Linked DNA regions of Homo sapiens. The protein of the gene in region 4 interacts with the protein of the main gene of each other region in a pairwise test. Each region holds a gene or a part of one and is shown on either strand. Other genes may lie near its edges.

Region 1 (7,459 bases), on a different chromosome or scaffold from region 4:
CTAGTCTCGAACTTCTGACCTCAGGTGATCCACCCACCTCGGCCTCCCAAAGTGCTGGGATTACAGGTGTGAGCCACCATGCCCAGCCAACACTTCTAATATAAAAAGAACTGCTGGAAATTAAAAGCTTAGTGGCAAAAAGGAAAAATTCAGCAATAAGAATTGAAAGATAAAGCTGAGAAAAATCTCAAGAAATAAAGGAAAAAATAAAGAGGATAAGGATTATATCTCAGGTGGGGGGGGGGGAATTGTATCTCCCACTAACTATATGCATGTATATGCGCACGTGTGTGTGTGTGTGTGTGTGTGTGTGTCTCAAACCTTATGGACCAGGCTTTTTTTTTTTTCTTAAGACAGGGTATGGCTCTGTCGCCCAGCCTGGAATGCTATGGCACAAACACAGTTCACTGCAGACTCAACCCCCTGGGCTCAAACAATCCTCCCAGCTTGGCCTCTCAGAGTGCTGGGATTACAGGAGTGAGTCACAGTGCCCAGAGCCACTTTACCCATTTTTTTTGAGACAGACTCTCTCTTTGTTGCCCAGGCTGGAGTATAGTGGTGTGATCACTGCTCACTGCAGCTTCAACCTCCTGAACTCAAGCGATCCTCCCACCTCAGCTTTCTGAGTAGCTGGGACTACAGGCATGTGCCACCATGCTCAGCTAATTTTTGTATTTTTTGTAGAGAAAGAGTTTTGCCATGTTGTCCACACTGGAACTCCTGGGCTCAAGCTCTCAAGCTATCCACCCACCTCAGCCTCCCAAAGTGGTTGGATGACAGGCATGAGCCACTGTGCCCAGCCACTTTACCTACCTACCACATCCTGCCACAGTCCTAAGTTTAACTAATTAAAGAGATATGCTGTGAAATGTAAGAAAATAAGAGCAAATAAGTTAGTAGAAAGCAACTAGGGTAAAAGGAAGGCAGGAATACTACTATGGGAGATAAGCTAATCACAAGTTTGTTTTTGATGAGCAATGGAAAACTGTTTGATCAGGGTTGAAAGGACAAAATTGGCAAGAACTGAATCCCAGATAATAAAAATAGAAGTAAAGCTTGTTAAAGAAAAAAAAATCATTTTGTCACTCCTAATGAAATTATTCACACAAGGATTGGTGTTAAAAGCATTAAGTGAATAGCTGACAGAGAAAGGGCATTTGTACTGTACCAAAATGAACACATAGATCACTGTCTAGTAGCAAAAAAAAAAAACCCGAAAAAACAAAAACAAACATTAACTTCCTAACAGAGAGAGATCAGGCCACTCAGATTCGGTGGTCAATCTTAGAATTAGGAATAGTTTGACAACTAGTTTATGTTATCTCCTCGTGTGATGCTAGCTGGAGGACTGTCAGGGTACATAAATAACAGTCTTCCTCAAATACAAGGCAAATATCAACGTCAAAACAACAGATTATTCAGTAGTGTTTCTTTTTAATCCAACAGTAAAAAAGTTTTTCCAATCTACTGGAAAAGAAAAAATTGTTAAATTCAAGGCACTTAAAAGAGAGCTAACTTTAAATCTTGTTCTGGAACTTGAGAGAGTTCCAGTGGTATAAATGTCAGCACTCCCCGTGCCTTCCCAGGGACTACCATGGCTTGGCTCTGGGGACAGGGGCACCCAAGCAATTAGCTTGAAGGCCAAGGCCTTCAAGATAACACAAAGGCAAATCCCTCAGGAAGAACACCCTACTACTGCACTAATTATATTAGACAGCAAAGCGGGGTAAAAAAAAAAAAACAACTCACAATGGAGATATTTCCTTCTTAATTTCTGCCAAAGCCTCACGACATAGGCTTGAAGGTGATTCCTGGTCCTAGAATGAGAATTGAAAACCAATTTCGGTACAACCAATCTGGATGCACAACCAACTCAACACCGTGAGGTGGCAAAGGGGTAAGAGGCCAAGGAGTTCCTGGGCTCTGCTACCCTCCCCCACCCTAATGTTACCGAGAAACTAAGTTGAAAAAAAAGAACTATAGGAACCGCAACGACGAGACAAAGCTAAAAGTGCTTCGTCCAACTGCAGTACTGGGGATGCAGTGGGCTCGGGGATCCGAGGCCTGCTCCCAGGACGGGAGAGGGAAGGGTAAACGTCGTCTCGACGCCAGCAAGGGATTTGTATTCCCTCCTAAATTTGCCCACCCAGCGTCATCTCTGTCACTCCAAGCACCATTTCAGAGGTAACGGGCGGCGCGCATCACCTCTGGGCCCACAGTTGCCTCAAGAAGTTGCCCTGGGGCCCCAGCAGTCGACGACAGGGCCCCAGATCCGCCATTAAACTCGCCCAGATCAGCAGCAAAGAGTAAAAGCCGCGCAGCGCCTGGGAAAAGATGAGCGAAGGAGGGGACCCAGCGGGGCAGAGGCAGAAGCCCTCGCCCGAAAAACCTGGGGACCTCGGCTCCGGCGGCAGGGTGGCAGCGCGGTCCTGACAGCGAAGACCCGGCCGGGGCGCCCCTCCCTCGCCCAACCCGCCCCCCGCCACTATGCGGCAGGAGAGAAAGAAAAATGCCCCGCGACCTCCCCGGGCGGCCGGCAACCCGCCCCGCCACCCCGCCTCCCCGCCGGCCCCGCGACCTCCGCCGCTGGCGACCGCCTCACCCAACCCTCCCGGCCTCGCTCGCACTCTCCCAGCCCCTCAGGCCGGACGCAAAAGCGCCGGTGACAGGAGGGCAGCCCCGAGCTGCCCTCGAGGCCCCGAAGCGGCAACGGCGACGGCGGCCGCGCCGCGGGGTATTAATCCCGGGTCGGTGGGAGCCTCCGGAGGCTGCTCTCACCCATCTCCGCCTCCCCACTCACCTCGGCCTCCGCCTCCTCCTCCGGAGGCTGCGCTGCTCCCAGCCACCCCCACTCTCAGCGGCCCTGGACTGGAAAGACAGCGGGGATAAGCGTCACCCGGTTCTGGCTGCGGCTGCGCGGAACGAACAAGCCCACCCCGCTTCGGCGACAAGCACAACTCCGCGAGGTCCAGTCCCGGCTTTTCGCGCTGGTGAGGAGGCGGAGAAGCAGGGGACGGCGCAGCAGAGCCCGAGGAGGCCCCACCCTCCGTGCGCTCGTTGGCTGGCGAGGGAGACGAGCCTGGGCGCCTTGGGCACGCCCATTGGCTCCGACGGCCGTCCTTCAGGGCGCCCCCTCGGTGGGGTGGCCGAAGAGCTGTCCGTCAGGTGCGGGCCACACCCGCGGCCCTGCAGTTCCACTCCCGCCTGCCAGCCCTCAACTCCCGGTCGGGTTGTCTCCCCGCCGGTCTCCCGCCCCCAGCTACCGGGTCCGCCAGGGTCAGGAGCCCGAGATTCGCCGCCCGTCGTAGCGGCCCGCTTCGGCCCCTCGGGGCCCGGGGCTCTCCGGGACCTACACAGCCCGGGAGACTCCGGCGGGGCTGCCTGCCCTCGCCCGAGCCCGGGGGCCCAAGCTGCGGCAGCGGCTCCCAACGCCTCTGCTCGAGGAGAGCGGCGGCCTGGATGCCCCAGCGCCCTCCCTGTCCAGTTCCTTGAAGGCCCCCAAGAGGGGCGAGGCCGGGGAGGTGCTGGAGCGGGGCCAAGTGAGCTTTCGGGGCCGCGGTTGAACTGGAGTCTTGAGTGCGCTGCGGTCAGTGGAGGCCCTTCCACCCTCGCCGCGCCCCGTGGGGAATAGTCCCCCACCTCCCGCCATGGCTGCAGCAGGAGGAGACGACGTCCTCCATTTTGTCGGGACAACTGTGGGAACTTGGGACCCCTCAAAACCAAACCCCGTGGGGCCAGGACTTGTCCCGGAAGCCCCGACTGGGCTCTGCCATTCGGACAAGGGAACAGCCCCAGCTGCCGGCGTCTGCGTCCGCGGGGCAGTACTGGTCGGGCGCGACGGTGGAGACACCCAGACGCAGCTCCCCGCCTCCATCAACCAAGATGGAGGGAGCTGCAGGCTCCCTTGGAGCTGGGCTCTCGCGGGTTGGAGGGGCTGAGGCCTGCCCTGGGGCGTCCCTGGGCGCCGCCGTCCTGTGCTAGCAGCCCGGGGCGCTGGCCCTGCCTAGGCCTTTTTACTGCCTGCCACCGTCTCCTGGTCCGGAATGGTTGATGGAGACTCCATGGAGGCTCCCTCCACAGCCCGCTCTATCGCGGGGCGCACCCGCTGCGGCCCCTGCGGGGAGCAGAATCAGGGACAGATGGCGCCCGGTGAGGGCGGGCCCCACAGGCCACCTCCACGAGGGGTCTTCTCTTTTGTTCCTCGTCTACACCTACGTCTTCGGCGGATGTCATGGTGCTGAACCATTTCCCGGACTCCACGTAAAGATGGAAGCGATTCCGCTTTCGTCTCGCCCTGGCGGTTCTTAGTGGGATTACAATTGAGGATGTTAGTTTGGATGAAAGTTGGTGAAATACTTACCTTATGTCTGGAAATACAGATAATGTGATTTTTAAAAAACACATTGAGCCCCGTTTTACTTCTGTGGTATGGTAAAGGCACAGGTTTATTCAATGAAAATCAGACGTTAACCATCTAATGCAGGGGTGGCCAATCTTTTGGCTTCCCGGGGCCACATTGGAAGAATTGGCTTGGGCCACACATAAAATACGCTAACAGTAACAATAGCTGATGAGCTAAAACAAACGAAAAAACCAAAACGCCAAAAAAATCTCATAACGTTTTAAGAAAATTTACAAATATGTGTTGGGCTGCATTCAAAGCCGTCCTGGGCCGCATGCAACCCCCAAGGGCTGCAGGTTGGACAAGCTTGATCTAAGACAAAAGCATGTTCACGGATTGATGAGAGTTCTGTGTAAGCCTTTGCATATTGCATAGTGCTGTATGTCATGGATATGCCTAATATCACCTACATTTTTTAGGTCCTCAGTTACTCTTTGGAAATAAGTGAATTACATGTAATGTCATCATTTTAATGACTGCTGTAAATTACAAGCACTGACTACCCTGAGTTCGTGGAGAAGGGCTCCATAGAGAAAATTTGAAGGTCTGACAGAAACTTTAAATGGTAAGCTCAGTAGCCACTTGTCATCTATTTTCTGATTATCTTTTTCACAATTTTTTGGCATTGATACTGTTCAAAGATTAAAATTGGGTAACATTTCTTTTTCCTGATAGTGGCAGGAATGACAGGTTCATGTCCCAATGAAAACGCTCACCTCAGTATGCTGCCATGATTTCGAGGGTTGTCGAAAATTTAGGAAAAAAAAGTCTTCATTGTTCAACAAGATAGTGTCATTTATTGTAAATCTTTTGATAATTCAGGACTCCCGGCTAATACAAAGTCACAGCATTATGACCAAGTCTACACAAAGGGGCCAGATAGCCTGCCTTTGAATCGTACTTTATTACTAGTAGCTGTGTGATCATCTTAACAGATAAGTTACTTAAACTCAGCCTCACTTTTATCATTTAAAAAATGTAACAAATACTTAAGATTTTTTTTTTTTGAGAATTAAATGAATTGGCCGGGCACAATGGCCCACGCCTGTAATCCCAGCTATTTGGGAGGCTGAGGCAGGAGAATCACTTGAACCCAGGAGGTGGAGGTTGCAGTGAGCCGAGACTGCATCACTGCACTCCAGTCTGGGCAACACAGCAAGACTGTATCTCAAAAAAAGAAAAACAAAAAACAAGCAAAAAAAGAATTAAATAAATTATCACACATATGACACTTAGAATTGCACCTGGCACATTAATTAATAAAAGCTTGTAAATTTTGCCTGTCATTGTTAATTCCCAATCAGCACAGTGGTACACTAAAAAAAAAATTCTGGCCCGGTGCGGTGGCTCACACTTGTAATCCCAGCACTTTGGAAGGCCGAGACGGGCAGATCACCTGAGGTCAGGAGTTTGAGACCAGCTTGACCAACATGGCGAAACCCCGTCCCTACTAAAAGTACAAAAGTAGCCGGGCGTGGTGGCGCATGCCTGTAATTCCAGATACTCGGGAGGCTGAGGCAGGAGAATCACTTGTACCTGGGAGGTGGGGTTGCGGTGAGCCGAGATTGCACCATTGCACCCCAGACTGGGCAACAAGGGCGAAACTCCGTCTCAAAAACTAACTAAATAAATAGGAAAAAATTCTTCCAGCCTAGGTAACATAGTGGGACCCAGTCTCTACAAAAAATTTTAAAAATTAGCCAGAAGTGGTGCATGCCTGTAGTCCCAGCTACTCAGGAGGCCGAGGTGGGAGGATCACTTGAGCCCAGGAGGTCAAAGCTGCAGTGAGCCATGATTGTGCCACTGCACTCCAGCATCTGGGTGCAGAGTGAGACCCTGTCTCAAAAACAAAAAAAAAAGTTGTTTATAATAATTTAATGACTTATTAAAGTAACATCAGCACTTTCTTACTATTGTAATATGAAAATATTTAATTCTTGGAGTTAATATGTAAAATAAACCGTAGAGGAAATGTAATTGGAACCAAAATTTATTTATTCTTTGAAAGTGGCTTAGTACAGCCAGGCGCGGTGGCTCACGCCTGTAATCCCAGCACTTTGGGAAGCTGAGGCGGGTGGATCACCTGAGGTCGGGAGTTCGAGACCAGCCTGACCAACATGGAGAAACCCCGTCTCTGCTAAAAATACAAAAATTAGCCAGGCGTGGTGGCACATGCCTGTAATCCCAGCTACTTGGGAGGCTGAGGCAGAATTGCTTGAACTTGGGAGGCGGAGGTTGCCGTGAGCAGAGATCGCGCCATCGCACTCCAGCCTGGGCGACAAGAGCGAAACTCCATCTCAAAAAAAAAAAAAAAAGTGTTGTCTTACAATATTCTTAAATTGTCATCCCAAGTAATTCATAGGGATATTAGAAACATAGATCAAAAACAACTGGGGTGGGGAAGAGAGAAAAGAGACTGAGGGAATTAATGCTTATCTTGGACAAACCAGTGAAAAGCTATTTTAAGCAATAAATAATGAAAATTTATTAGAAGAGAAGGAACAGAATCTAAGATTGAAAAAGCATGAGATGACTGGTTGCTATATTTTTAAAAAGATCTCTAGAATCAGTAGGATGCTTTTTTTTTTCTTTGAGATGGAGTCTTGCTCTGTTGCCCAGGCTGGAGTGCAGTGGCGCAGTCTTGGATCACTGCAACCTCCGCCTCCCGGGTTCGAATGATTCTCCTGCCTCAGACTCTAGAGTAGCTGGCATTACAGGCATGCGCCACCACGTCCAGCTAATTTTTGTATTTTTAGTAGAGATGTGGTTTCACCATGTTGGCCAGGCTGGTCTCGAACTCCTGACCTCAAGTGATCTGCCCACCTCAGCCTCCCAGAGTACTGGGATTACAGGCGTAAGCCACTGCACCCAGCCTGAAACCAGTTTTATCTAAGACTGCTGAGATGGCTTGCTGCAACTTTAGGATTAATTTTGGCCACTGCCGTTGCTCACCATTTGGAGCTTGCCAGCTCCCCAGAACCTTACTAGTGCCAGAGAGCTTTCTCAACAAGCAATAGGTAACATTTCTCTTTTTCATAAAACCCCCAACCTTCTCTT
Region 2 (7,019 bases), on a different chromosome or scaffold from region 4:
CCTAGCATCCAAGGTATGTACGTATGTAGAGTTGGAATACGCTTAACGCCTGTCATATGGAGATCTGCATATATGTAAATTTAAAAGTAGTAGCGATTGCTTAATATTGTGAAATGTTTTTCCGCCGCCGACGCCTAATTTCCGAATACCTGGATTGCTTGGAAGCGAGGCGCAGTCCTGCTGATCAGGGATCCTTGCTGCCTCTGTGACCCCGAAGGCCCGCTCCTTTCGGCGCAGGGCGGGAGCCCTTCTTGTGTGCGTCTGATTCTCTGGTCAAGGTCACCACGGGCCTCCAGGTGGCCCAATCCATGGACGCCTTCTCTTACGAGACCATGTGCTGAACTGGACGCTGCCAATCTCCTTTGCACTGTGCGGCACCCTAGGCCTGGGTGGGCGCTTCGCTGCAGGCTTTTCTCCCATCCCGTCTCCGCCTCCGAGCGCCCAAGGCTGACCCTGGAGCGTCACGTCGGCTGGCAGCAGGACCCACACCTTAGCTCCGTCTCTGGTTCCAGCAAGAACTGTTCTCCCAAGCTTCAGATCCACGCGTGTCTTGGGCAGTTTTTCCAGGTATCTCACAGCATCTAACGCCCAACCGTTCGAGACCTAAGTCATTGTTTTTTTCTTCCCTCCCCTCCCGCATCCTCAGCCTGTGATCTAGGTTGTGGAACTACCCAAATCTATCGCCGCTGCAAGCCTTGCATCCCGCTCCTTCACCTGCGTCTCCCTCTGGCTGCCGCCTCACCCGGCGCCGGCCGCCTCCTGTATGGACCAGGCCTGTGTCCTTCCAGCCCCTGTCTCCGACAGTCTTACTCCCCCTCATACTCCCTGTTTGCATCACTCCTGAAGGAACCCCCTGAAATATAAATCAGAGTGAGTCCCTCAGTCTCCCCAGGCCCCATCACCACAGGGTTTGGGAGGAGGCCAAAGATCCCACCAGGTTCATGTGTGTGTCGTGCTTCTCCGACTGTTGAACGCTTGCCGCCTTTGTGCCCGGAGCAGCTTGGGTCACTTGCCTGGAGGGGCATCCCAAACCTGACCTGGCCAGAGCGGCGACGGGTGGAAGGGGTGGAGAGGAGAGAAAGCAGGAATTGTAGCAAAAAGCTCCAGCGGGCGTTCCCTTGGCTTGCTAGAGGACAAAGAAGAGAAGCCTGTCCACTTCATCTCCACTTTAATGAAAAAGCCAGAATCCTTTAAGAATGTTTTCCAGTCCCAGTGAAGGTGGTAAAAAATAACCCTGAAATCACAGTCTGCAAAAGAATCCGAAATAATTTGTGCAAGACGAAATGTCAAACTTAAAACTCTTTGAACACCAGCTTTGAACACCAGTAACTCATGTGCTAGGATTGTACTAGCGACTCTGCCTATTTACAAACGTTGACCAACTTCTGCCCAGACCGCCCTCACAGACTATATAGCCCTCATAAGTCCCCGCTTTGATTTACGTCTGAGACAGAAGACGATGCTATCTTTTGCTCAGCGAGATTAAGCCAGCTTTCTATGATCAACAGACTTCTCTCGTGGTGTGGTGCGTATGCGGAGGAGACTTCGACAGCTTAAAAATACAAAACGGGGCCAGGCGCGGTGGCTCACGCCTGTCATCCCAGCACTTTGGGAGGCTGAGGCAGGAGGATCACGAGGTCAGGAGATCGAGACCGTCCTGCCAACATGGTGAAACCCCGTTTCTACTAAATACAAAAAATTAGCCGGGCGTGGTGGCGCGCCTGTAGTCTCAGCTATTCGGGAGGCTGAGGCAGGGGAATCACTTGAACCCGGGAGGCGGAGGTCGTAGTGAGCCGAGGTGGTGCCACTGCACTTCAGCCTGGAAACAGAGCAAGACTCCATCTTAAAAAAAAAAAAAAAAAAAGAAAGAAAGAAAGAGAAGAAAAAAAGAAAAAAGGCCTATATTTGCAGGACTAATTTCGAGGCCATCCTGGGCTCAAGCGATCCTCCCGCCTTGGCTTACCCAAAGTATTGGGATTACAGGCATAAGCCACCGCGGCGCATGGCCCGTTTTTATCTCTATTTATGTATGGGGGAAACGTGGAGGCTGGTATTTGTGGGGCAACATCTCACAAAAATAGACTCTTAAAGTCAAGAGCATAAAAAAGAATATACGGAAGACAAGTGTCTCATATGACACAAAGCATCTTTCTTGACAGGGAGTCGAAAGCAGGTCGTAGCGAGACAAAGGCGGAAGCCTAACCACTAAATCTCCCAGTAAAGTGGGAGTGAATCAGATAGGTTTTGACGCTCACGAACGCCTGGGGTCGTCCTGCGGTCTCACCCCAGTTTCGATAAACCACATTGTTCCCTCCAGCACAGCAAGTCTCACAGCAAGACGGGGGCAGGCCGTCTGGTAAACATAAAATGCCTAATATGTGCTGCCCGTGGGCGAGTGGCCTACAGCAAAGGGTCATGCATGCACGATAGCCCGCGGTGCTGGCCTGCAGGAATTGGTCCACAGGTACCCGCCTCTCATTCTTTCTTTGAGAGTTAGCGAGGGTGCAAACGTTGTGAGAATTCTGCTCGGGGCCTTCCACACACGGATCGGAGAACACCAGGTTAGTCCAAGTTCTAACACCCACTGTTGGTGAATCTGCTACCCACTAGGTCTTGGTACAGAGAATACCATTTGTGCACTTAGGTAACACAACTTGCCTTAACCTTTCCAAAAAGCGAAATTACGCCCAACGTGGGGCTCGAACCCACGACCCTGAGATTAAGAGTCTCATGCTCTACCGACTGAGCTAGCCGGGCGGCCATGTCTGTATTCTAACTTTGTCTCTGAAGATGGAGGTTACCCTCAGAGGTGTAAGCACGTTTCCACTGTGCAAATACTAAGAAGCGCCTGCGCCTGGCTCTGTTCTAGGCACTAGAGCCGAGGATCTGAAATCTACGGATTCCTGTACATGTGATGGCTGCATAGGCTTCAGAAGGGAAGAGCAAGAGATTAGGTGAGGGGCGAGACCTGAATTTACTTGAGTAGTGCTCTCCTTCAGTTTTGCCCCAGTCCGTGTTCCTCCGAAGCGCAGGGACACACATGTCCTTCCTGCCACGTAAGGCCGGCCTCGGGAGAGAATCTCCCGAACAGACCAAAACGTGTTTCCGCCCGGTTTCGAACCGGGGACCTTTCGCGTGTGAGGCGAACGTGATAACCACTACACTACGGAAACCACCTTGGCTACTTTCCTGCCGGCATCGTCCTGAAGACACACACGGCTGAGACGGCCGGGATAGCTCTAGGCAAGCGCCCTTGTAGGACAGGCCCGGGGACCCCTGCCGCGGCCGGCTGAGCGGTGTCCAGGTTCTGGAGCCGGACTTGTCCACCGCAGCCGAGTCCGCAGGTCCTGTAATGGCCTAGCATAGTTCACCCACGAGGGTTCGTGGTTTTTGGCGCGTTTGATCTGACATACTCAGAGGCCTGACCACCCCCCTAGGAAGCGCGACGTCCATCTGGAGTTTTCCCGCGAGCCGCCTTGAGAGCAGGGTAAGTTCTGCAGGCCCAGCCCTGGCGTCACGCTGTGTCTGGCACTCACTGGAGATTCTGTACATAAATCATGGCCCCGTCATTTTTCTCGCATCAAACAACATTTATTTATTTATGTATCGACATCAAATCTCTATAAAAATAAAATTTAAAGAGCTATTTAAGCATCAAGTATTATTTCTACCGCACAAAGCATCTATTTTTGCAGAGATGCTGTGAGAATGTAGATGTAATGATTCGTCACCACTTCTTCACTGCTGGGCAGTTAGGGAAGTTCATCTAAACCATGAGACAGTGTCCGGTTGGCAGTTTCTACCTCGGATGCGAAACGCCGACTACAGTTGGGGAAGGGTGGGGCGTCTGCTGCCCTAACCCGCGAAGCGCTTTCTCAGGCCCCGCCCCCGGTCCGACCCGGACGACCCTCTGAGTCCTCCACAACGAAGTCGTCTGCCTAGAAGGGCCGGAAGTACTTCAGGGCGCGCCGCGGACCCACCCCCTCGCTTCCGGCATCGGCTGTGGGGAGTACCGGCTGCAGTCGGCTGTGCCGGGAGGGTAGGATGGCGTCTGGCCGATGCGGTGATAGCACCGAAAGCAGACGGCCGCCAGGCGCTCCCCCTACCCCCCGAAGTTTCTCCCCAGCGGCGGGGGATGGGGGTAGGCGGTTCCTCTGTTCTTTCTGCGTTCCCCGCGGCCTCTTACCACAGAGACGCGGGCCTCCACCGTCCTAGCCCTCCCGCCCTGTTCTCTAGTGCGGACTAGAGCGTCTCCTCGCCATTTCCTGTCGCCCTGGGGCCCCGCGGGGAAAAAGGGGGAGTAGCAGGACAGCGGAGGGAAGTCGCGAGCTTAGGTGGTGTGTAGACGCCGGAAGTGTTGGGAAGGAGGCCGGAAGCTAGGGGCGGGGCCAGGAAGTGAGGAGGGGCGGGGGTTTATGAGGAGTCCAAGGGAGCATTGGGGCAGACTTGTACTCAGAGCCACCTGAGGGACTTGGCGGTGGCGCCCAGCACTGTCCCCTCCCCTCGTAGAGACACGGTTGTCGTTTGGGAGTAGGGAACACTGTGTTGGGGTGGGTTGTCGGCAGGACATCTCTCTGGCTGCTCTTGGGGCGAGGTGTGGAGGGGCAGGGCTGGGGGTGGAGCCGGGTCGCCAGGGCGTCGGTAGGGAAGACCCCCGCCCCTCGCCCCCCCACCGAACCTCTACACTGGCTGGCTGGACACTAAGATGGCTGCCGTTGCCATGACACCCAACCCTGTGCAGACCCTTCAGGAGGAGGCGGTGTGCGCCATCTGCCTCGATTACTTCACGGACCCCGTGTCCATCGGCTGCGGGCACAACTTCTGCCGAGTTTGTGTAACCCAGTTGTGGGGTGGGGAGGATGAGGAGGACAGAGATGAGTTAGATCGGGAGGAGGAGGAGGAGGACGGAGAGGAGGAGGAAGTGGAGGCTGTGGGGGCTGGCGCGGGGTGGGACACCCCCATGCGGGATGAAGACTACGAGGGTGACATGGAGGAGGAGGTCGAGGAGGAAGAAGAGGGTGTGTTCTGGACCAGTGGCATGAGCAGGTCCAGCTGGGACAACATGGACTATGTGTGGGAGGAGGAGGACGAGGAGGAAGACCTGGACTACTACTTGGGGGACATGGAGGAGGAGGACCTGAGGGGGGAGGATGAGGAGGACGAGGAGGAAGTGCTGGAGGAGGTTGAGGAAGAGGATCTAGACCCCGTCACCCCACTGCCCCCGCCTCCAGCCCCTCGGAGGTGCTTCACATGCCCTCAGTGCCGAAAGAGCTTTCCTCGGCGGAGCTTCCGCCCCAACCTGCAGCTGGCCAATATGGTCCAGGTGATTCGGCAGATGCACCCAACCCCTGGTCGAGGGAGCCGCGTGACCGATCAGGGCATCTGTCCCAAACACCAAGAAGCCCTGAAGCTCTTCTGCGAGGTAGACGAAGAGGCCATCTGTGTGGTGTGCCGAGAATCCAGGAGCCACAAACAGCACAGCGTGGTGCCATTGGAGGAGGTGGTGCAGGAGTACAAGGTGAGAGAAGTACAGAGAGAAGATGGGAGTTTAGTGGGGGGATGGAGAGGAAGTAAGGGGACCTGGGAAAAGGAAACATCTCTTCACCCACCAAAGAACCTCATGGTATTGGTGAGCCAAGTTTGCTTATCTAAGCACTTACTGCCACCAAGGTGGATTAGAATGAGAAGGATTCTGTACACAGAGCAGATGCAGTGAAGACGACCAGGGAAGGATGGCTTCCTCAAAGCAAATAGAGCAAAGCCGGTGATGCCAGATCAGGTCTCTAGGGCTTTACCAGAAGTCTCGTTTTCTTTCGGGTGAGTCTTAAGTCTGTCCTTGACGGAGACACCTAGAGATGGAAAGAACTGGGGGCTTCAAAGGACAAGAAAAGGCTCAGAAGCAGGAACACAGAGATAACTGCTAGTGTCAGTGTCAGACCCAAATGCTCTGCACTTGCCTCCCAGTGGGTTCCCCACCTACCACGATATGGCTTGGTTCTGTCTTCAAGGACTTTGGTTGGCTCTGTGTCATTCTTATGCACTGACTAGAAAGCAGGAGCTTTTCAGTCAGAAGACCTGGCTCTGCAAGTTGCATTGTCAAATCTTGATTAAGTCTGTGAGTGTCTTTGGACTTTAATTTGTCCAGGATTGATAGTTAATATTCACTGGACATTTATATGTATACCAGGCACTGTACTAGGCACTTTTCATGGACTGTCTCGTTAAAACCCAGACAACACTGAGTTTGATATGTTTTCCATTCCCATTTTATAGATTGGGAAACAAAGTCAGAGAGGCTTTAAGTACCATACAGAGGGCCACAGAGCTTCAGTAATAATTGACTTAGTTATTTACTGTCCCTTCCCCTGGTGTATACTAACAACGCCACCACCATTTGGATGTCTGTTGTTTGACTTTTCTGATGTGACTTTCTTGGAGTCTGATTCTAGTTTGACAAATACCTTGCCCCTACTTCTCATTTTGACTCTTCTTTGGACATAGGTAAAGGAGATTTGTTTGCAAGGCAGCCAGCACAAATAGCACTACTTAGTGAAGGCCTGGATGGGTTTGAAGCAGTGGGACCAGGAGGAGGAGGGGGTAGCCTCTGTGTGGTCTGCACAGAGCTTTTTTTGTTTTATAACTCATGTTTTCAGACCTTCTCCTGATTCCTGCTATAACTTCATTTAGGTATTATTTTCGTTACCCCAATTTTAGAGTAATGTGTCTAGGGTTTCTCAGCTCTGAGTGGTACAGCTAGACATACCTACATTACCTCATCACAAGTAACAATTTCTTTTACAGAGTGGCCTTTTTTTTTTTTAATTTTTTGAGACGGAGTCTCACTCTATTGCCCAGGCTGAAGTGCAGTAGCATGATCTCGGCTCACTGCAGCCTTCACCTCCCGGGTTCAAGTGATTCTCCTGCTTCAGCCTCCTGAGTATCTGGGATTACAGGCACTCGCCACCACAGCTGGCTGATTTTTGTATTTTTAGTAGAGATGGGGTTTCACCGTGTTGGCC
Region 3 (7,140 bases), on a different chromosome or scaffold from region 4:
GCTGACAGAGAGAGTCATAGCAATGTAAAGGCCGCAGAAGTTATGAAATTATTTTCTCCTGTTAATACTGTCAGGCATGAAGAAATAGAGTCTGGAGTAGAGACAGCATTTCATGACTACTGACCAAAACTCTTCAGCTTCTTTGACTATAGAAGGTCTTTCCTTTTTTTTTTAGACAGTTTTTTTTTTTAAACCAAAAGTCATCAAATCAAGTTTGTGGCTTGTGACCAGGATTTTTTCAAAGAAAAAGAAGAGATGAGAAAATAGACTATATCAAACAATATACCAAGTAAGGATAGGTTTTGTTTTAGGAAACTGCTTTCGGTTACGTGTTTGTATGTAAGTGTGTCTTGAATTGCTACGTAAAAACGTGAGCTTTCTTACTCTGTGGATTACAGTAAAGCAATCGTGTGAAAGCCATTGTTCTGGGAGACAGGCCTATTAATCAGGCATGTCCTATACTTATAAAGAGGGCTGGTGTTTATCTGAATGGAAGCAAACATGGCTGGCTAAACTAGCAATGAAGGATTTAAACTATTTGTTTTGGGGAAAAAATTTATATGTGTGTGTGTGTGTGTGTGTGTGTGTGTGTATTACACTCAAGTAAGAATCTCTCAATCAGCTAGGAGGAGACGACTTCCCATATAAAATTAGAAATAGGAAGGGGAAAAGGAAGAAAGGGAGGAAAGAAAAAGTGTAAGAAAAAAATTGAGGAATCTGTTAAACTTGAGGAACTCCTAGGATGTCCATTTCTACCTAAAAAAGTTCAGAAGACAGACAAAAAAGGGCAGAGAAGTACTTATTCCCAAGTGGAGAATATCTTCTTGATGAAACTGAAGTGGGTCCTGAGTAGCAGGGCCTGTTTTTGGGGCTTGAACAGGTCTTCTGACTAATAGGAATAACTAACATCTATTAAATGCCACTTCATAATTTCCAGCTGATTTAAACTTCACAACTTTATGAGGTAGGCCCTAACATTTCTCCTGCAAAGAGGATGGGGGTGGCACAGGTGGTTGCATGGGTGGGCAAGGAGAGCAGGTTAAATTCCAGAAATATTAAAAGCAATTGTCAGAGGCTGGGCACGTGGCTCATGCCTGTAATCCCAGCACTTTGGGAGGCCGAGGCAGGTGGATCACGAGGTCAGGAGATTGAGACCATCCTGGCCAACATGGTGAAACCCCGTCTCTACTAAAATACAAAAAATTAGCTGGGCGTGGTGGCACGCACCTGTAGTCCCAGCTACTCGGGAGGCTGAGGCAGGGGAATCACTTGAACCCGGGAGGCAGAGGTTGCAGTGAGCTGAGATCACGCCACTGCACTCCAGCCTGGCGACAGAGCAAGACTCCGTCTCAAAACAAGCAAATGAGCTTAAAAAAAAAAGAAAAAAAAAAAACAGTTGTCAGAAAATATTCCTAGTCATGGGTATTAGAGTATGGAACTTTTCCCCCTAAGGTCCTAATATCTAGCAATTCTAATCAGTATATAGACCAGTCCAAAATTGACATGTAATCATATTACTTACATTTTTCTTTGTCAAAACCAATATAACAGATATTTTGCTTTTTATTCTGGGAATGGCAAGTTAGTAGACATGTCATCCTTATGTGATTTTAGTCCTGCATTTTTTGACATTATTAAATGCAATAATTCATAATGAATTAATATTAATACTAATGATAAATCAAATCCAATGACAGTAGGATTTTTAAATTCTATTAAAATTAGCAGGTCTTCTCATTTCAGTCTCTTTGCTTCAGCAGCATGTTATAAGAATTTTGACCAAAGACCTTTCTCTCTATGCTTTATATATTCTTGATAAATTATAATTTCCACTAATCTTATTCCCTGTGGATAGGTAATTCTTTTTCAAGGCTGACATATAATTATTTTTTTAAGAGATGTAGAAGGACCAAACCAAATAATCATTACTTTTCAAAAAGGCAACATTGATCTCACTTTTTAATGTTTAAAGTGCACCACACAAGGCAAATACTCCCCAGTGAGAAAAAGAAGATAAGGTGCAATTTTTCAGAAAATGCTATTGCATAGGCTTAGTCTGATGTGAGTCTTCCTTGGAAGCACCAAAGTCCTGAGGTTTAAACAAATCAGGAGAAATAATTTTGCGTTTCCGGGCCAGGGCAAAATTCTGCTTTAATCACTGAGCTGGCATTAGTGGGACTTTTAACATTAAAAAAAAAAAAAAAAAAAGTCCCACTAATGCCAGTGATTGCCCTATTCCTAAAGCCTTTAGCCAAACATTGTAAGGACAGCCTGGACTCAAAGAAGGGGAGTGAGGCTGGATCAAAGTCCAACATCAAACTAAGTTAAGACCTTTGGATTAGAAAGTCGGCCTGCACACTGGGACCTGTTGTGGGGTGGGGGGAGGGGGGAGGGATAGCATTAGGAGATATACCTAATATTAAATGACGAGTTAATGGGTGCAGCACACCAACATGGCACATGTATACATATGTAACTAACCTGCACGTTGTGCACATGTACCCTAAAACTTAAAGTATAATTAAAAAAAAAAAAGAAAAATAAAAAGTCGGCCTGCAAAGCCAAAGTTGCAAGTAAGCAGGAGGGCTCCGCATGAAGGACAGGTCGAGGCCAACTCCCTAAGTGTTGATCTGTCTCAGCCTCAGCCTCAGTTTCCTTATCAGTAAAACGGGGACGAGAGTTCCCTGCGAAGATTAACCAAGCTAATCTAGGTTAAAAAAAAAAAAAAAGAAAAGAAAAAGAAAGAAAGAAAAGAAAAAAAAAGTTCCTGGCATGTACCAGTTGCTCAACTCTTGAGTGTCCTTCTCGGTTTAAACCGACGGGGGAGAGTCAAAGCCTCCGGAGCCAGAGGGCGGCTAAGGCCCGCACGGTCCCCGGGCTGGAGGCGACCGAGCCCGTTACCTGATCGCGTTGACCGGCGGGTTTCGGAGGCGGATTAGCGCCAAGGCGTTGTGCAGCCGCGTATACTCGGCCATGTTTCCTCTATCACCGAGGGCACCTCTGCCTCTCGCCGTCAGGCAAACCACTTTTCCGGGCGCGCCCGGCCTCCTCCAGAGGAGGGACGCCGGCTGGGCCAATGCGAGCCGGGGCGCCGCCTCCCGCCGCGCCTCTTCCCACCCAGCCCTCCTCTCCCGAGACCCCACCCGGCGCTCTACAGACGCTTGTCGCTTTCCCTTTATTAACTCCCATGCTGCTCCCACCAGAAGGTACAGCAAGGAGAATGATGGAAAACAGCTGTAATTGCCGGCAAGTCGAAGTTTGTAACCCCTTGGCCCATAGGGGCTGGCTACTGAGGACAAGTTCTGAGTTCGCTGAGACGGGCAAGCTGTCCTCATCGCGGTATTCATCTTCATGATCTTTCTGAACAGGGACAGATACCTGGGGCCCTCCCTGACAGTTATGTGATATTGATACACATCTGGAACACATAAAATACACATTGTTCATTTCACCTAAATGAGTAGGGTACTAATGAAACAGCCTTTGCAAAAATTCTAACAGTGAGAAAATTATGGCAGTCAAAGAGATCTGATTTAACCAACCCCATCTTGCCTTTAGCTGCCCTTAATTATTCCTGAGCTTAGGCCAAGTTAACTTTGGGAGACATTTGGTTTATAGTTTAAATGATAATAGCCCTTCCCCAAAACTCAACTGCCTTTGTAAAGCTAACCGAGAGACCACCAGGCTAGGAGGACAGAGGAGTGTGAATTCTCTCTGCTAAGGTGTAAACATAGACCATTGCCAGCCATTATTCCGGAAGCCACCAGATAGACAACTTCCCCATTTACTCCTGCAGGTAACATTACTATTGTAGAACCTAAGTTTGGCCTTTTGAGATATTTTTTCACGTTTGCCTGACACTGATGGCTCCACCTGGACCAGTCAACAGCTCCTGTGGCCCCACCCACAAGCAACTCAGTACAAGAGGATAGCTTCAACCCCTATGATTTCATCTCCAACCCAACCAGTCAGCATTTTCCATACCCTAGCCCCTGCCCACCAAACCACCTTTGAAAAACCCCTAACCTACTAGCCTTCGATGAGATTGATTTGAGTAATAACTCCATGTCCCATGTGGCGTGGCCAGCCTCACATCAATTAAACTCTTTCCTTACTGCAATGCTGTGGTCTTCCTGAATTGATTTTGTTTGTGCAGCAGGCAGGAAGAACCCATCCAGTGATTACTCTAACATCAACCAAATACTTATATAACATTGTTACTAGAGGAGGGTCTGGACTGCAAGTTGTCCAGGTTCTTGGCGTTTTGAACAAAGAATTGGACGAAACACACAAAGCAAGGGAAAAACAAAGCAACAGAAGCGAATATTTATTGAAAACGAAAAGACACTCCACACGGTGGGAGTGGGCCCAAGAAAGAGGCCCAAGGGACCTTGTTACAGAATTTTCTGGGGTTTCAATACCCTCTAGAGGTTTCCCATTGGTTACTGGGTGTACGCCCTATGTAAATGAAGAGGACGAAGTGAAGTTACGAAGTCATTTACTCAGTGTACACCCTATGTAAATGAAGAGAATATTTCCTGTCATAGCTGAAGTGTTTCCATTTGATTTAGTTCTAGAAAGTCTTTAGGTTCCCTGCCTTCAGGCCCTATACTCCTGCCTCAACATCTTTTTTTTTTTTTAATTTTTATTTTTTGAGACGGAGTCTGGCTCTGTCGACCAGGCTGGAATGCAGTGGCGCGATCTCAGCTCACTGCAAGTCCGCCTCCCGGGTTCACACCATTCTCCTGCCTCAGCCTCCCGAGTAGCTGGGACTACAAGCGCCCGCCACCACGCCTGGCTAATTCTTTGTATTTTTGGTAGAGATGGCGTTTCACCGTGTTAGCCAGGATGGTCTTGATCTCCTGACCCTGTGATCCACCCGCCTCGGCCTCCCAAAGTGCTGGGATTACAGGCGTGAGCCACCGCACCCAGCCCACAACATCATTTTTATTTGTCTTACAATCACATGCAACTAGCGAAACTGTTATGGGTGGACGGTGTCCAGGTTCTTGGCGTTTTGACCAAAGAATTGAAAATGCAAAACAAAGCAAGGAAAGAATGAAGTAGCAAAAGCAGAGATTTATTGAAAATGAAAGCACACTCCACAGGGTGGGAGCAGGCCTGAGCAAGTGGCTCAAGGGACCAGTTACAGAATTTTCTGGGATTTCAATACCCTCTAGAGGTTTGCATTGGTTACCTGGTGTATGCCCTATGTAAATGAAGGATGATGGTTGGGTGCAGTGGCTCACACCTGTAATCCCCGCACTTTGGGAGGCCATTGTGGGCAGATCACAAGGTCAGGAGTTTGAGACCAGCCTGATCAACATGGTGAAACCCTGTCTCTAATAAAAATACAAAAATTAGCCCGGCGTGGTGGCACATGCCTGTAATCCCAGCTACTCAGGAGGCTGAGGCAGGAGAATCACTTGAACCTGGGAGGTGGAGGTTGCAGTGAGCTGAGCTTGCACCACTGCACTCCAGCCTGGCAACAGGCGAGTCTCCATCTCAAAAAAAAAAAAATAAATAAATAAAATGACAATTTAAATGTTTAAATGGCCCATCAGGTAGCCAAATGTACCTGAAGCTTTGATTGTAAACCAAACATTGGTTATAAACTATTTTAGCAATTTATAAGTCAGCAAACCAGTATATATTTAATCTGGATCATTTTATCTTTTCCATGATGAGTCACGGAATGCAGAAACTTTAATAACAAAAGCTTTAAGGACTCAGGAAGAACAAGGTGGCCATCTTGGTTTTCCATGAGTCCATGCTTAACACTGGACTTATGTCCTCTTGAATACCAGTTGTTTCTCCAATTTAGGTGCATAGCACTGATAACTAATGGGTTTTCATAGCTGATTTGACTTAGACCATGGAGTTCAAATGACTTTAAATAGTGATAGTTAAAAACACTATTGACAAGGAGATTTGGTTATTTCTGTGGTCTACAATAACACAATAATTATGATTGATAGCATATACTCAGACATATTAGAATTTTAGAAATTCCATACAATTCTGGAACATATATTAATATCATTCACTAATATATAACCTGAAGATGATTAAACATTATTTTTTATTTTCACAATGCTTCCCATGTAACTAAACATATCAAATAATCCTGTTTACCTCTCTTTTGGATGGTTCACGGGCCTGCTGTAGCATCTCAAAGTTTGAGGTCAGAAAAGACAATTTTGAAGCTGCAATTTGATTTTGGGAAGCTTGTTAAATGTTTATAAAAATTAACATTCTCATGCCTTCTCATTATATTTTACCATTCATTCAACCAGTTTGCACAAAGAGGGGCCAGAAGTCCAACTGGTAAGAAATTCTTACCCTTTTGCCGGCATGTCAGCTTTCTTGAGTTCTCTCTCCATGAGCAGCCCTAGTGACCCTGCTCAACTGTATGCAAACAAACACATTGCTATGAATTAAGAATATTCACAAACAATTTACAAATTTTGAAGAAATTAGGCAGAGAGAGAGAAATATGACTCAAGTTCTATTTACAAAAGTATACTCAATATACTTAAAGTATCAGGAAGCCTAATATCCAAAAAGTTAGTTTAAGGTTAAAAAGCTTAGTGTGCTCCACCAATTCCTGTGAGCTCAACAAAGGTAGCCTAGGAATTCCAGATAAATGGAACAAATGATGACTTGGTAGAAATGCATAGAAAATAAAATAACTATTCACAGAACCAAATAAAAGCCTTCCACTAGAAACTAAAACAACAAACAAAAAAATGGTTTTCTATTTATGCGACCACAAGCAAAGCCTGGAGGAGAATAAACAGCAAACAAATGAAAATTAGAAGCAAAAACAAACAGGAACCCCACCCTAAATTTTTCCTACTCAATCTACCCTGGAGGCTACAGTGTTACTCAGGGCCCCCAAACACCCATATAATGAATATTTTATTCCTGATACACCATTCAATATCCTTAAGTCCACCAATATCATCATACATCCTGTACAATCAAGAAATTCACTCTAGGCACATGACCAATAAGTACTCCAGTGCCAGCACTATCCATGCAAAACAGTAAACGGTGTGAAGCAATGCATGCATGTATGTGAAATTTAGCTCCATACTTAACCAGCTTCATGCTTAAGTATATTAAAAAATATACTTA
Region 4 (7,033 bases):
ATCTTTATCATCTTAACTTCTGTAACAATGGATATCAGCTCCTGATGGCAGAGTCCAGGTTTTATTCTTATTCCTTAATGCCTGATACATAACAGCTCTCTCTTGGCTCCAGACCTAATGATACTTGTTTCCTTAGTTTAAAACACTACTTTCTAGGCTGGGCATGGTGGCTCACGCCTGTAATCCCAGCACTTCTGGAGGCCAAGGCAGGCGGATCACCTGAGGTCGGGAGTTCAAGACCAGCCTGACCAACTTGGAGAAACCCCATCTCTACTAAAAATACAAAATTAGCTGGGCGTAGTGGCACATGCCTGTAGTCCCAGCTACTCAGGAGGCTAAGGCTGGAGAATCACTTGAACCCGGGAGGCAGAGGTTGTGGTGAGTCAAGATTGCACCACTGCACTCCAGCCTGGGCAACAAGAGCAAAACTCCATCACAAAAACAAAAACCAAAACAAAAAACAAGCCAGGCATGGTGGCTCATGCCTGTTATCCCAGCACTTTGGGAGGCTGAGGTGGGTGGATCACGAGGTCAGGAGTTCGAGACTAGCCTGGCCAACATAGTGAAACCCTGTCCCTATGAAAAATACAAAAATTACCCAGGTGTGGTGGCACGTGCCTGTAGTCCCAGCTACTCAGGAGGCCAAGGCTGGAGAATCACTTGAACCTGGGAGGTGAAGGTTTCAGCGAGCCGAGATTGTGCCATTGCACTCCAGCCTGGGTGACAGAATGAGGCTCTGTCTAAAAAAACAAAGTAAAATAAAACAAACAAAAACACCACTTTCTAAACAATTGTGACTCCTTTATTTTCTCTGAGAGGCCCTTCCCTGACCGCTTAATAGAGTAGAATTGTCTCTTCTGGGCCCATTGCATACTTCTACTGTAACACTCAACACACTTTATTAAATACTTATTCCTTCCCATCCAAACTCCAAGTTTCATGGTATTAGGGGGAAGTATCTCCATCTAATGCTGGGAACTTGCATCTTCTAAGACAAAATATTCTTTACTTTTGCTTTGAATTATATTATACTTATTGCAGCTACATTGCTTGTCCCATTACTGGCCAAACCCTCTTCTGTTCAAATCAGTGTGTATTCCCATCGCCTAAGACTGCACTAAATACACAGCAAGTGCTCAGTTTGCATTAGTTGAACCTATCAGATTAGTTTGACAGTGGTAAGGAAGAACTGTTGTTAGGAAGACCAGCTTAGTGTCTGCAGAAGCATTGCAGGTCTGAGGCCATGATGGCCTAGAAAGAAATAAAAATGGGAATAAGACGAAAGGAAAAATAACAAAAGATATTTCAAAGAACTTGGTAACTGACTGGATATAGAGAATGAATAAAAGGAATGTGTAAAGATTCTACATTTAGGAGTTCATTTGAATGAGAATGGCATTGAAAGAAGGTGACCGGCCAGGCACAGTGGCTCACACCTGTGAGCACTTTGGGAGGCCAAGGCTGGTGGATCACGAGGTCAGGAGATCCAGACCATCCTGGCTAACACAGTGAAACCCCATCTCTACTAAAAACACAAAAAATTACCCGGCATGGTGGCGGGCGCCTATAGTTTCAGCTACTCGGGAGGCTGAGGCAGGATAATTGTTTGAACCCGGGAGGTGGAGGTTGCAGTGAGCCGAGATTGCGCCTCTGCACTCCAGCCTAGGCAACAGAGCAAGACTCCATCTCAAAAAAAAAAAAGAAAAAAAAAAAAGAAAGAGAGGTGAAATTTAGGAGGGGGAACTGGTGTGGCACCAATATAAGAAGAAGTAATAAGTATATTAATAAAAACACAAACAAAGCATAATCTTTCCCCTTGTATGACATTTTGAATGTACCGATAATCACAATAAATACAAAAACTGCATTGAGAGAGGAGCGATGTAGACAAGCAAATGAAACATCAGAGAAAAGACAGTGAGTATCAAACATGAAGGGAAAATGTAGAAGATATACAGGGAAAATGTCAGTAATTTAAAGCAGCAAAACTATTATCATTGGTCACTTTTAGCAACTGCAGTAGCTTAAAATACTCATTTTGGATTTGGAGTGATGAATGTTCCAATTTGTAACCAGAGTTGTAAAAATGACTGTTTCAAGTGGCCAAACAAAAGTGGCATTCTTTTTTAGCATTTAGCTGGTTTTGAAGGTGCCTATGAAACCCTCAGATCAGTATTTCCCTCCTCACACCCCAAAATAAGCATTCATTGGTTCTACCTATATTATGACAGTACTCACAATGCTTTAGACAACTATCCTCAGAGACAATTGTTCCTTGCTCTAAAGATGAAGAGCTGGAGTGTAGTTTCATTTAGTCATGTGTCATATGACAGTGTTTTGTTCAACAATGAACTGCATATACAATGATGGTCCCATAGAATATAATACCATATTTTTACTGTACCTCTTCTATATTTAGATACACAAACACCATTGTGTTACAATTGCCTACAGTATTCAGTATAGTAACATGTGGTACAGGTTTATAACCAAGGAGCAACAGGCTGTGTCATACAACCCAGGTGTGTAGTAGGCTATACCATCTAGGTTTGCATTAAGTATACTCCGTGATATTCACAAAATGATGAAATCACCTAACGACGCATTTCTCAAAACACATCACAGTTGTTAAGTGATGCATGACTGTGCTTCCTATCCATCAGTTCTCAAGAAAATTATCAACAACAGCAGCCAACCAGATAGTTCAGGGAAGTGTTTGCTTTGATCTGTCTGCTGTAGTCTAAGAATGTGAGCAAAATTTATTGGTTTCTTAAAGGATGTTTTCCCTAGGATGTGTCAGCCCACTCTATTGTCTCTCTCTGATAAATTCTTATTTCCAGGCCACACATCTTATCCCTTAATTGTTTCCTTTCACTAGTTTCTCTTTCCAATAGACTGTTAGTTATTTGAGGGCAATGACCAATGGTTTGTTATACTTTATACAGCTCATTTGACAAAAAACAGAAGAATAATGAGTTCTTAATGTTCCCCCATGAAATTATTACTAGGCTATGGTACAGATGCTCTTCATTATGATATCTTCTTTTGAGTGCCTAGGGAAAGCTTTCTTTCTAGGGTTTGTTACCAAAATAGTTTTGGCAATATAAAACCAAATTTCAACTTTCTTTTTTTTTTTTTTTTTTGAGACAAGGTCTCACTCTGTCATCTGTCACCCAGGCTAGAATGCAGTGGCGTAATCATAGCTCACTGCTGCCTTGGCACCAAGGCTCAAACAATCGTCCTGCCTCAGCCTCCTGAGTAGCCAGGACTACAGGTGCACACCACCACACCTAGCTAATGTTTTTATTTTTTGTAGAGGCAGGGTCTCGCTGTGTTGCCTAGGCTGGAGTGTAGTGGCGCAATCAAATCTCGCTGTAACCTAAAACTCCTGGGTTCAAGCAGTCTTCCCACAAGGCCTCCCAAAGTGCTAGGATTACAGGCATGAACCTGTTTTAAACACTTAAAAAAAATTTTTTTTGATAGTTAAAAAAAGTTTCTTATGAACCATCTTAATTTTATTTAAAAATAAGAGAAATGATACCTAATCTTCCTTGCTACATTTCAGGTATAGATGTTATACCTAAATTGACCCATTTAGGCCGAGCACAGTGGCTCATGCCTGTATTCCAGCACTTTGGGAGGCTGAAGTGGGCACACTGCTTGAGCTCAGGACTTTGAGATCAGCCTGGCCAACACGGTGAAACCCCGTCTCTACAAAAAATACAAAAATTAGCTGGGCGTGGTGTCATGCGCCTGTAGTCCCAGCTTCTTGGGAGGCTGAATGGGAGGATGGCTTGAGCCCACGAGGCAGACGTTGCAGTGAGCCATGATCATGCCACTGCACTCGTCTGGGTGAAAGAGCCAGATCCTATCACAATAAATAAATAAATAAATAAATAAATTGACCCATTTAATCGTGAAAATTTCTACAGGTAAGTATTACCATTATCCCACATTTTGTATATGACGAAACTAAGCTTAGAAAACATAAATAACTTGTAAACCCCAACGGAGGTTGAAAGTGTTAAGTGTTAGATCTGGAACTGGTGGTTTACACTGCATGATGCCAAAATCCAGGTATGAAACAACTAATCTAGGTACAATTTTTTTTTTCTTGTTTTGAGATGTAGTTTCACTCTTGTTGCCCAGGCTGGAGTGCAATGGCGTGATCTCGGCTTGCTGCAACCTCTGCCTCCTGGGTTCAAGTGATTCTCCTGCCTCAGCCTCCTGAGTAGCTGGGATTACAGGTGCCTGCCACCATGCCCAGCTAATTTTTTTTTTTTTTTTTTTTTGGAGACAGAGTTTCACTCTTGTCACCCAGGCTGAAGTGCAATGGGCTTGCCGCAACCTCCACCTCCCGGATTCAAGTGATTCTCCTGCCTCAGCCTCCCCAGTAGCTGGGATTACAGGCAGGCGCCACCACGCCTGGCTAATTTTGTATTTTTAGTAGAGACGGGGTTTCTTCATGTTGGTCAGGCTGGTCTCGAACTCCCGACCCGGGTGATTCACCTGCTTCGGCCTCCCAAAGTGGTGGGATTACAGGCATGAGCCACTGCGCCAGGCCTAATTTTTGGATTTTTAGTAGAGATGGAGTTTCACCATGTTGGCCAGGCTGGTCTTGAACTCCTGACCTCAGGTAATCTGTCTGCCTCAGCCTCCCAAAGTGTTGGGATTACAGGTGTGAGCCACTGCACCTGGCTGGTACAGTTTTATCTCAAGGATAATAATTGTGTAACTCGGCTAGGTGCGGTGGCTCACACCTGTAATCCCAGCACTTTGGGAGGCCGAGGTGGGCAGATCATGAGGTCAGGAGATCGAGACCACGGTGAAACCCCGTGTCTACTAAAACTACAAAAAAAAAAATTAGCCAGGAGTGGTGGCGGGCACCTGTAGTCCTAGCTACTCGGGAGGCTGAGGCAGGAGAATGGCGTGAACCCGGGAGGTGGAGCTTGCAGTGAGCTGAGATTGTGCCACTGCACTCCAGCCTGGGCGACAGAGCGAGACTCCGTCTCAAAAAAAAAAAAAAAAAAAATTGTGTAACTCTTCAGATTTCCTTCCTTACATTCAGTATCACAAACACAGGCCAAGAAAATTCATTGAGCTGCACACTTATGACTTGTATATTTTTGTTTTTGTTATGCTTCAAAAAAAGGTTTATGTTTAAAAACAAGTTATAACTTCAAGCCAAATTTGCATGAAATTAGAAGACTTAAATGGCAAGCATATATGTATTAGTCATATTCCTGATTGCATATTATGCCTTTATCCTTATTATACCTTTCTCATCTATTTTACTTTATATTATTTTCCATCTTTTGTGTATTTATCTTTGTGGACTGAAACTTAATGCCATTTGCAAATAAAGCAGACAATAAAAATTATGAATATATTTGATTTCACAATCCCCAACTGTAGGTAACTTCTAAGTATAGCAGTAATTACTCAAAATAATCATAAAAATCACTCAGATAATTCTAGGTTATAGTCAAGCTTCTTGTAACTGAAGGAAAGTAAAGAACTGATCAGGTAGATCAGAGACACAGTCATCATATTTTGTTGATTCTTTCCTCAGAATGATCACCAACTCCTCACTCCTCCATTCTTACATCATTGCCATAGTTCAGGTCTTTATTATCTATTGCCTCAGTTACTGAGATTAAATCTGAATACTGTTGAGTTTCTATTAGCAAGTTTTGAATGATATTTCTCAAACATCAATGTAATGGGAATATTCTCACTTCCTCTTCATTTATATTTATACAATCCTTCCACAATTATAACTAATTTGAAATTTTCCCTTTGTTCAAATGAGGATAGTAAAAAATGACTAATTACTGAATATTCCAGGTGGGACAATGTAAATTGCTATACTACAGGCAGTGAGAAAATAGTTTCTTTTCTCAAATGCTTCTAATAACTACTGGCAAGTAAAATTTTTCTATCTGTATAATAAATTCTTAAGCTAGGTATCAGTTTGCTTCCTCACCTGTCTCATAAAAGTGCCCTTATCTTTCAACTTACCACTCAAAACTACTTGGAAATCTTTGTCCCTCATTGACATGGTATGTTCTTTTTCTAAAGAGGCTGTATTATACTACAGCCTTTCTCTCTATAAACCTTAATCTTGTTCTTCTTTTAGGTAACTTTCATGACACGATACTCTCCAAGTTATCAAGCTTTTGTTTCAACTTTTAAGTAATATATACAGAATGTATTCTTCTTGAAAAATTTTTGAAGATTTTAGATGTAATTCCCCTTCTCAACTGCCTACCACTCAGTATTCAGTTTAAGTTTGATCCTTCCTGACTCTCCCTCCTTGCATTTTGTTTATTTATTTATATATTTATTTATTATTTTTTGAAACGGAGTCTTGCTCTGTTGCCCAGGCTTGAGTGCAGTGGTGCAATCTTGGCTCACTGCAACCTCCACCTCCGAGTTCAAGCAATTCTCCTGCCTCAGCCTCCTGAGTAGCTAGGATTACAGGCATGCACCACCAAGCCCGGATAATTTTTGCATTTTTAGTAGAGATGGGGTTTCACCATGTTGGCCAGGCTGTTCTTGAACTCCTGACCTCAAGTGATCCATCCGCCTCGGCCTCCCAATGTGCTGGGATTATAGGCATGAACCGCTGTGCCCGGCCCCTCCTGGCATTTTAAAAACAATACTTCTATATGTCTAGCCACAAAAGTATAACGTAATTAAGTTTCTTATACATAAACTATACATATTGTTTTGCAACTTACTTTTTTCACTCATTGTTTTTGAAAGCAATTTATGTTGATGAATATAGATTTAATTCTTCTTTTGATTTTTTTTCATTTTTTGAGACCAAGTCTCGCTCTGTTGCCCAGGCTGGAGTGCAGTGGTGTGATCTCGGCTCACCGCAACCTCAGCCTCCCAGGTTCAAGTGATTCTCATGCCTCAGCCTCCCACCTCCCAAAGTGCTGGGATTACAGGCGTGAGACACCACGCCCGGCCTAGTTCTTTTTTTTGAACTGTTATGTGGAAGTGGGCAAATTACTTAACTATTGAA

What was found.
Region 1: the proteins of ZBTB26 (region 4) and ZMYM5 interact in binary tests that used the Homo sapiens proteins (3 or more experiments, as listed by UniProt).
Region 2: the proteins of ZBTB26 (region 4) and TRIM41 interact in binary tests that used the Homo sapiens proteins (3 or more experiments, as listed by UniProt).
Region 3: the proteins of ZBTB26 (region 4) and EHHADH interact in binary tests that used the Homo sapiens proteins (3 or more experiments, as listed by UniProt).

Annotation. Positions count from the first base shown.
Region 1 is NC_000013.11:19,860,650-19,868,108, forward strand, and holds the start of ZMYM5 (zinc finger MYM-type protein 5), read right to left. Parts: upstream 3,001-7,459; 5' UTR 2,801-3,000; intron 2,721-2,800; exon of another isoform or gene 2,178-2,720; coding exon of another isoform or gene 2,175-2,177; intron 1,818-2,174; coding exon of another isoform or gene 1,750-1,817; intron 1-1,749. UniProt on the Homo sapiens protein: Functions as a transcriptional regulator.
Region 2 is NC_000005.10:181,219,295-181,226,313, forward strand, and holds the start of TRIM41 (E3 ubiquitin-protein ligase TRIM41), read left to right. Parts: upstream 1-3,986; 5' UTR 3,987-4,705; coding exon 4,706-5,518; intron 5,519-7,019.
Region 3 is NC_000003.12:185,251,048-185,258,187, forward strand, and holds the start of EHHADH (peroxisomal bifunctional enzyme), read right to left. Parts: upstream 3,003-7,140; 5' UTR 2,976-3,002; coding exon 2,902-2,975; exon of another isoform or gene 2,779-2,901; intron 2,226-2,778; exon of another isoform or gene 2,163-2,225; intron 1-2,162. UniProt on the Homo sapiens protein: Peroxisomal trifunctional enzyme possessing 2-enoyl-CoA hydratase, 3-hydroxyacyl-CoA dehydrogenase, and delta 3, delta 2-enoyl-CoA isomerase activities. Catalyzes two of the four reactions of the long chain fatty acids peroxisomal beta-oxidation pathway.
Region 4 is NC_000009.12:122,921,495-122,928,527, forward strand, and holds part of ZBTB26 (zinc finger and BTB domain-containing protein 26), read right to left. Parts: intron 1-7,033. UniProt on the Homo sapiens protein: May be involved in transcriptional regulation.